Regions from separate parts of the Homo sapiens genome. Here region 2 is linked to region 1. The links come from fine-mapping of genetic effects on gene expression. A gene starts in region 1. The other region holds a variant in brackets. All regions are shown on one strand. Distances are from middle to middle.

Region 1 (4,393 bases):
ATAGGATTTATTTTTTAATTTCACAATTGTATTTCCAATGCTGGATTCATAGGCACTTCCTTGTCATAGTAGCAGCACATTAATTTTAGCCTAAATAATTATTTAAATTATTTAACTATTTAAATTATTTAACTATTTAAATAATTATTTTACTAAGAAGAATCCACGAAATGAAAATGAGCACGTTCACTAATTTTCATATTGCCTGACCATCTCATAGCACCATGGTCACAGACTGCAAAGCCTCTCACCGGAACAAGACAGACCAGCAAGGAAGTGTAGGTTCAACAGCACATGAGAATCATAACTTTTAGTGCCAGAGTGTCTGAACCAGAGAGGAGGGAAAATGAGAGGCCAAGAGTTGTCTCCATTTTCTTCTCTTCACAGTATCCTGCATAGTGGCACAAATCGAACTGGAAAGCCCAAGCTAACAACACCGCCCTGGGCGAACCGCCTGTCTCCACCGGCTCCTCTGGGCAGGAGGCTCCAGCCTGGGGGTGCCTGACAGCTCTCCTTCCCCGGCGCCTGTATTATACATGTAACATTTATATTTCTATCCACACAGCGTTCATTCAGCCATCCATTCAATCACCCAGGCATATTTACACGGATGGAACACATTCGCGGAGAGATGTGTGTGTTTGAGTTCCAATCACTGCAGCCCGTATTGGCGCGGCGCTTTGTCTCGCTTTGGGTCACCACCACAGGAGCAACGATTTCGGGGACGGCACACGCCTGTGTGACCGCTTCCCACTCCACTTGGGTTCCGTGAGCGCGCGGAGCCGGAGGAGTCAGGGACGTGAGGATGCCCTACTTCCCGCAGCATCCGGATGGCAGGGTCTGCGTCGGAAGGCCCGGGAGGGCGACGCCCTCCACTGCTGCCGCGGGGTGGGTGCGCCAGGCCTGGGTGTGGCCTCACGGGAGCGAGTTTCTCTCCAGCCGCCTGGCCCACCGCTTTGGAACAGTGAAGCTCGAGTTGGGGTCTCCTGCACGCCAAGGGGAGAAATGTTTGTTTCTGACAACACAAGCAAAATTCTCTCTCCTGCACGCCAAGGGGAGAAATGTTTGTTTCTAACAACACAAGCAAAATTCTCTCTCTCTCTCCCTCTCTCTCTCTCTTCTCTCCTCTCTCTTTCTCCCTCCTCCTCCTTTCTTTCTTTCTCTTTTTCTTTCTTTCTTTCTTTCTTCCTCCTCCTCCTCTCTCTCTCTCTATCTCTCTCTCCACCCCCCCCCCCTCATATTTGGTTGTTTCCCCTCTAAGGGGCCACTTTCAATATCTGCCTGTGAGCCCAGCTGTCTGGCCCTATGTAGCATTGGGGAGACAGTAGACTTAACCCAGCGAAGTTTTCTTCTGTTTGCTCTTGCTGTGCCCAAGTTTCCTCTGGACTTGTCTTCCAGCGTCGGGGTGGGGGCTGGGGGAAGTAGGCAACCTAGCTCTGCCTGGTTGCTCCCTGGAAGCCAAGTCGAAGTGAACAAGTCAGTCCCAGGCCCGGAAATAGAATACAAACCCTCTTTTTGTCCGGTGCTAACAGAGTCCAGCAGTCAGAACTCCCTCGCGTCTCACGCTGGACCTGACCCGGGGCGCCGCCAAGTGCGCAACGCACAGTCACAGTTGGTGACTAATTAAGGACTGCCGCCCCTCTCCTTCACCTGCTACAAACTCAGAGCCCTGACTTCTCCAGAAGTACCTACCACTTGGAGGTGGCTCTCCTTCCCCGCCCCCTGCCCCAGTCCCACACCGCAGCAGCGCCTCAGCACCGCGACTTGCCGGAGCACCGCGAGTGGCGCGCGGGTCCCGCCTCCCCCGCGCGCCGTGACTCCCTGCGCACCGCTGGTACTCTCGCCACGCCGCCGCCCGGCACTGCAGCACCAGGGGGAGGAGGCAGGCGGAGGAGAGGAGGAGGACCGCAGCGTGCAAGCCGGGAGCCACTTTCCCGCCCCTCCTCTCGCCGCTGACACGCTCAGAGGAGTCACCACTCCGCGCGCTGCAGGCGAGAGTGGCAGACGGAGGCAGCCCGGGGAAGCGAGCCGGAGCGGCGCCCGCACTGAGGCGGCTGCAGTGCTGACACCACTCAGGGCAAGGGTGTCCGACGGCTGGAGCGGTGAGTGGGGGAGGTGAAGCGGGCATCCGCGGGGAGACTTTCCCCCGCTGCTGGATTTCTCTTCCCGACTGGTGGCCGGGCGCTGCAGCCTGGGGAAGTTTTTGCAGCCTTTCGGAAGCGCAACTTTGCCCCGCCTGCCCCCGGGGAAGCGGCTGCAGGTGCCCGCTGCTTTGTAGGCGCCTTTGTTGGAGAGGGACCAGGAAAGTAGGGGTAAAATAGATGCAGTGACCCCAGGGTTCGCTAGGGTAGGTCTGGGGACTGGGTCGCACTTTATCTGGGATTCCCAGAGGAGGTGGGTGGGCAGCAGCGGGGATGCAGGGGCCGCATCTGCAGCGACCGCCACGCTCTTTTTTGCTTGTGTGGTTTGACCGGCAGGGATAGGCAGATTCAAATCTAGCAGCCTAGAGCCCCGGGCTGGGTACCTGGACCTATACCTTCATAGCTGCCTTAGGCTCAACTTTTCGGCGGGGATCCCTCTGCAGACGTGCAGGTGGCGGGAGAGCAGAGGTAGCCGCAGTAAGTGCTGAGAGAGCCTGAAAGAAACACCATGAATTTTCAAACTCTCCCACATACATTCCCGAAGCGCCTGTCTGGCGTCTAAGAGAGAGCAAGAGAGGGCTGGAGAGCAGGGGAGCCCGCGGGGCTGAGGCTCTTTGTCAGCGCCTGCACTTCCTACGTTACAACGCCTTCATTCAGCAAAAACCTTTTGGGCGCCTGCTGTGCGCCAGGCCAGGCGAAGCAGACCCGAGGCTGTGAAGCTCAGAGGGGAGAGGGACCAATCGCAGTAAATAAGCTACCGAGGTAATCTTAGATGGCGATGAGGGCAGCAAAAGCCATCAGCCGACCCTCTGACCCTTTCTCTTAGTGGGCTTTTCCCCTTCCGCCTGGGTTCTAGAACTGGGAAGACTTTTCTCCAGAGCGTCGCGGGGAGCGCCCCGGGCTGGGCCCACGGGGACTGCGGAATACGGGGATGAACTTGGCTTGGGGCAGCCAGCACCCCACGGCAGATGAACAATCGGGAGCAGATCTGTGGGCGTGCGGGGACCTTAGGCGGCGCGCGGGGGCGGGGGGAGGGGCTGAGCCACGGGGGCTAGAGGTGCCGCCTGGACGGCCTGAGCTGGGGGCGCTCGCGTCACCTTCTACGTGTGCGAGTGATGCAAATGCAGACCCGCGAGGGGCGGGCGGGGGTGGCGGGCGGGGGCAGGCGACGGAGTCTCCGTCTGGGAGCGCGCGTGTGTGCGTCAAAAGCTCTGGGTTGATGGATGCCCCGCGGCGCGCCTGGCGCGGAGAGCGGCGACCCGGCGGGGCAGAGGGGGGCGGGAGGACTGCGGCGGCGCGGGGCGGCGAGGAAAGCCCCGCACGGCCTGGGCTGGCGGGCAGGCGGCTCCGCAGTGCGCCGCAGTGCCGGGAAGGAGCCGCAGCTACCGGGCGCTCCCCGGGGGACCGAGGAGATGAGGCGTCTTTTAAGGCTCATGAGAGCCTTAAGGAGATGAGACCGGGATGCCGTGATGGTCTCCTCTCCCGCTGAACCTAATCCCTTCATACTTAGCTGACTGCTAGCGCGGTAGCTTCCGTTTAATTCTTATCCTTAATTCTGAAGAATGTGGCATTAATCTCTCAGGCGTTCACTCATTTTCCATGGCAAGTTCCGAAAGGCCTCGTGCTCGTGGGAAGTTTTCATGTGAACGCCTAGGTGTTGAGGTTCGTGAGGTTCTGTAGTGCCAACCCGTTGCGCCACCATTCTGCAGGATTTTTGGCAGGAGGCCTGGCCTCTAAGTGAGGTTTAAGAATGTCTTACAAAACAATATGCCGCATTCCTCTTTCATGGCATAAAAATACGCGTTAAAAAACACTACTGATAACGCATTCTCTGGTGGAAAATAATAAATCAAATCCACGATCCATTTTATTCTTTTTTTTAAAGACCACTTTCTGGAAACCCAGTGACAAAGTTTTTCTACTGGCTTTACTGAAGGAGCCCAAATCTGCAGTATGTAGGCAAAATGAATGAAAGGGGACGGGGTTGGGAAAAAAGAAAGAAAGGAAGGGAGGGAGGAAGAAAAGCAATTATCAAGGAACCCAGAGACACAGATGCTAGTCACCATTTCCCCAAATATTGTGTTATGTCACCTTGGGCAGGTTACTCACCCTCTTGGGTTCATCTTCCACCTCTGAGAATTGTGAAAAATAGCTTATACTAGCTCTTATGTACCTTACAGGGTTGTTTTGAAGACAAAAGAGATAATCTCAGAGAGCTTTGGCTTTGGAAATACAAATTTTCCATGAATGGA
Region 2 (4,393 bases), 120 kb before region 1:
ATGTTGATATTCATGTGGATGTCCTTGAGAACACTGAAGCCCCAAATTCTCCTCTGGGAAACCTCTGGGCTTTCAGAACTAGCCCAGTTCCCACTGGTAGAGATAGCAGCTACTCAATGACTATAAAACATGCAGAGTTTCACATAAGGTAGCTGTCTCTCAAGTTAATACATATCCTCCTACAGATTTGCACATACCTTCCCTTGTAACTTCTCAGCCATCTACTCTCCTCCTCCCTATTACAGTCTACAAAGGCAAGGTGATAGATTAAGTCCAGGCCCAAGTCCATGTCACATAGTTGCAACTGATTCATGAACACACTCCGTCATTTCCTCATTCCCTGAGTACATAATCAAGAAAGATATACTTAGCAGCTGGCAGAAGCTTTATATTGATTTATTCACTTACTGAGGAAGAGCAATGATGATGGGAAAAGCCTAGAAGCTCCTAAAATTTTCCTCAACCCTAGATAAGATAGTAAATCAGGAGTAAGACCACATTCTGAGTAGAATGGTAGAGATTAGTAACATCTACTAAGACATAAGGGATACAGAAATGTTGGTTCCCAGTGTATCTTTGTTTAATTCATCAGTGTAGTCCTTGCAATAAAAAGATAGATTATAGCCAATAACTATGAGCTGCTATAAACCTTACCAATTGCTTCAATGGCAATTGCTGTGCTGGAAGCCAGTATCTTTACTAGAAGAGATTGGCACAACCTTTTGACATGCAGCTATTAATCTGGTGACTGTCTTATCTCCAATCTACAATGGGAGGAAGGATCCCCTTGAATGGATAGCAGTAGCACTATGTATTCAGACTCTTGCCCCAGGGCTATACTAACTTTTCTGCTCTGTCACAAAGTAAATCCAAACTTTCTTTGATCAGCTTGACATTCCACATAACATCAGGCTGATATCATTGACATCATGTTAATTAAATCTAAGAAGTTGCATATGGCAAGTACACTGCTTTCCTTGGTAAGACACATGTGTGACACACCATAGGAAATACATCCTACAAATATTTTAAAAGTCTGCCATATTGATGAAGTTTCTAAGCCTCTGACAAAATGGGGCATGCCCAGCCATCTCCTCTTAAGTAAAAGGCAAATCACTGTACCTTGCACTTCCTAGATAGACAAGTCATTGTATCTTTCATAGTTCTTGCTAGGCATCTTTGGACTTTGGATACAGGACATACCTCCCTTGGGAATACTGTTCCATCCTATTTGTCAGATAACTTGGAAGGCTACCAGTTTTCAGTGGGTGCCCCCAACAGAAGGATACTCTAAAATAGGTTCAAAATGCCTTTTGAGCATAGCCCGTGGTGCTACAGGTAACCTTGATGTGACACAGTGCAGAATCTCTGGAAAGCCTCAATAGAGTTTTTGAGCAAAGTCATGCCATCTGCATCAGAGAATTAGTTATCATTCCAAAATAAGCTCCTGGCATACTACTGAACTCTAACAGAAACTAAGTGCATGACCATGGGACATCAACTGACTATGTGACCAGAGATGCTTATTGTGATGATTAATTTTCTGTTCAACTTGACTGGGCCATGGGGTGCCCAGATATTTGGTTAAACATTATTTTCGGTTCTGTCTGTGAGGGTGTTTCTGGATGAAACCCTCATCACTAGTAATTTCTCATATGAAGTTCCCTAAATGTGGGGGAACCTATCTGTCTACAAACTAGCCACTCTCCCCTCCTCAACTTCTGGGTCCACTGGTATTTTTCCTGATTCCTTCTGTTGTAGCGACATTGCTTCTAACAATAACAGATTATCTTAAGGCAGCACCAATTGTACCACAGAAAACATTCTTGCATCCTTCGCCCTGACTTTGGGAATGTAGAGCATTTCCAACTTGGCCCTTTGGCTGCATCCTGAAGGCTGAACAGCTTCTAGTCACTACTTCTGGCTTTGGAAGTTTCTCAAATATAGATTTCTAATGGTCTCCTTGGCTCAGGACACACGTCATTTTCTCCGTTTCTTTTTGAGACTCTATCAT[T/C]ATGCTTGAAATGAGGGAAGCCCTCTCCCTCTCTTGTAGTGGGAATGGGGGTGGGATGTGGAGGCGGATTCATAGCATACCAGCATTTATCTCCAAGGAAACCCTCTCCTTGACCTTTTCAACCTCAACCCTTTGATGGTCATGAAGTATTCATTGGGATAAGAGTTCTAGAACACTTTCTTTGTACATCTGCGTAGGTGGTCTAGTAGTTCACTTCAGCAAATGTGAGTGATTTATACCCATGCCCCCTCAAATATTTTAAGACCTCATGCTAAAACTGTGACAGAAAAAGTCCCTTATTAACATCATTTGACATCAGATTTTGTTCATTTATGCATATATTTTTCATTTTTTATTAAGCAAGTGTTCTTTGCACCGTGGTAGCTGCTGATGATGCAAGGATAAAAACGATAGGGTTTCTGACCTGTGACAGTCCAGAGTTGAACAACTTGTACCCTGAGAACAAGCATTTAAGGACCTCTTTTCTAATTTTCTGGAGTTTAGCGGGGCAGACTGTCCTAGGAGAAGATCTGCTCTCTTTGCATGCTGCCTGCATAAAACATCTTCTTTGGAGATTCTGTCGTTTATTCAGTGTTTCTTCTAAGAACATTTCAGTTAAGATCAGAATGGCCTCAAAGCTCATCCTGTTTAACATCTCATGTGGGTGTTAAGTAGTTAGAACTGATAATTCCTCTATACTGAATGCTGCAGTTCTTGTCTCTCTTTAATCTTTGGAGTAGTGGACATGGCATTGATATTTATTGAAGGCTTCTCAAGTGAATTTAAAATGTAGCCAGGGTTGAGGTTTATCCCCAAAACACATGCACATGTGTGCACACATATATGCAAACACATCAGCAAGTTATACTTCTGCTCAAGGAATCTAATCTAGCTTCTATGATAATTGGGGGAAATATCAATTATTAAATCCACAGAGATGACATAAAGTACAATTCAGGCAACATCACTTCATTGTTATTTTGAGGGGTCCATTGCTCACATATTCATTCCACATTTATCTTCTGTCAGTCCAAAGGTAGAAATACCTGATTTTGCAAATGTTTCTCTTTCCTGTAGAGGTAAAAGGAAAGATAAGACCAGTCCTATTCACAAAGAAATGAGAAAGTATACTAAAAATCAATATTCTTTTAAAGACCTAGAGCACCATTACTGCTTCCTTAGACAAAATTTGTAGTAATGTTTCTACTTCACATTTTTATTGCAGAGTAAATTTGCTGAAAAGACTATAGTGAAAAATGATATTCAGCCTTAAGATATAAAACTTTCTTAAGAGTGGCATCATAGGATTACAGAATATTTTAGCTAGCATTCCTTTTCATAATTCTAATTTTTCCTGATGCTATTTTAATATGACCTTGAAGGTCAATGGAACTTTTAATGAAAAAATCCTAGAAACTCAGAGTATTTTCTGTAATAACTATGGTTTTCTTTGTTATAACCCTATTAACTGATTTTTTTTGCAACTCTATTAATGTAATAACTGTGTTAACACAAGTGCCTGACACTGTCTGTTGCTCTGCTCTTTTATGGCTTTTTACAATCTGTTTCTAATACAGTCATGCACCACATAATGATGTTTCTATCAATGATGGATCACTTATACAGTGGTGGTCTCATAAGATTATAATGGAGCTGAAAAATTCCTATCACCTAGTGATGTCATAGCTGTTATAAGATTGTAGCACAATGCATTACTTTTTCTATGTTTAGATACACAAATAGTTGCCATTGTGCTGCAAATTGCCTACAGTATTCAATATACAGTAACCTAATGTACAGATTTGTGGCCAAAAAGCAATAGGCTATCCCATATAGCCTAGGTCTTTTACTTTGTATAGATCTAAAGGAATAAAAATCTAAGCTATAAAAATTAAAAACCAAGCTATAGCGTCTAGGTTTGTGTAAGTATATTCTATGATGTTCACACAGTGACAAAAATCACCTAACAAAGCATGTCTCAGAAAGTGTCCCTGTCATTAAAGGACACATGATTATGTTTGTTGCTTTGTTATTGATTGTATTTATAAGTATCTCATATCTGCCTGCATTCATTTATTTATTAATTCCCCAAATATCTACAGACTGTTTGTATTAGATATACAAAGGTGAATAGGATATAATACTTCCTTGTGCTCTAATACCACTTTGCACATACTTCTTTCATAGCCAAATTTAGTGGGCTGTTCAAGTGAATTTATCTGATTCCTAGGAACTCTGTGTTATGTCTCTTGGAAGGCCCACCCCTAGTATTTGTGAGCCAAAGCAAGAATCCAAATGGAAGCCCATATGCCACGTATCTAAATATTTTAAAATTATACATTAAGTGATCAGATCTTTCAATAAAATATGCTCTTTCCT

What was found. PIP is the estimated chance that this variant, and not a neighbour inherited with it, causes the effect.
Region 2: its variant is the best candidate, but not a certain one, in a credible set for the expression of SV2C in tibial nerve (GTEx, PIP 0.54).

The regions. Positions count from the first base shown.
Region 1 is chr5:76,081,411-76,085,803 of GRCh38, forward strand. SV2C (synaptic vesicle glycoprotein 2C) reads left to right here and starts at 1,973. Exons shown (of 13, transcript NM_014979.4): 1 at 1,973-2,102. SV2C-AS1 (SV2C antisense RNA 1) reads right to left here and starts at 2,007. Exons shown (of 2, transcript NR_183290.1): 1 at 1,509-2,007; 2 at 1-986. RefSeq lists an enhancer at 784-1,337.
Region 2 is chr5:75,956,727-75,961,119 of GRCh38, forward strand. It overlaps a transcript of SV2C not described here. Among named protein-coding and RNA genes, the nearest start is that of SV2C, 120 kb to the right of the region's middle. The variant T/C (reference allele first, on the strand shown) is at 2,015.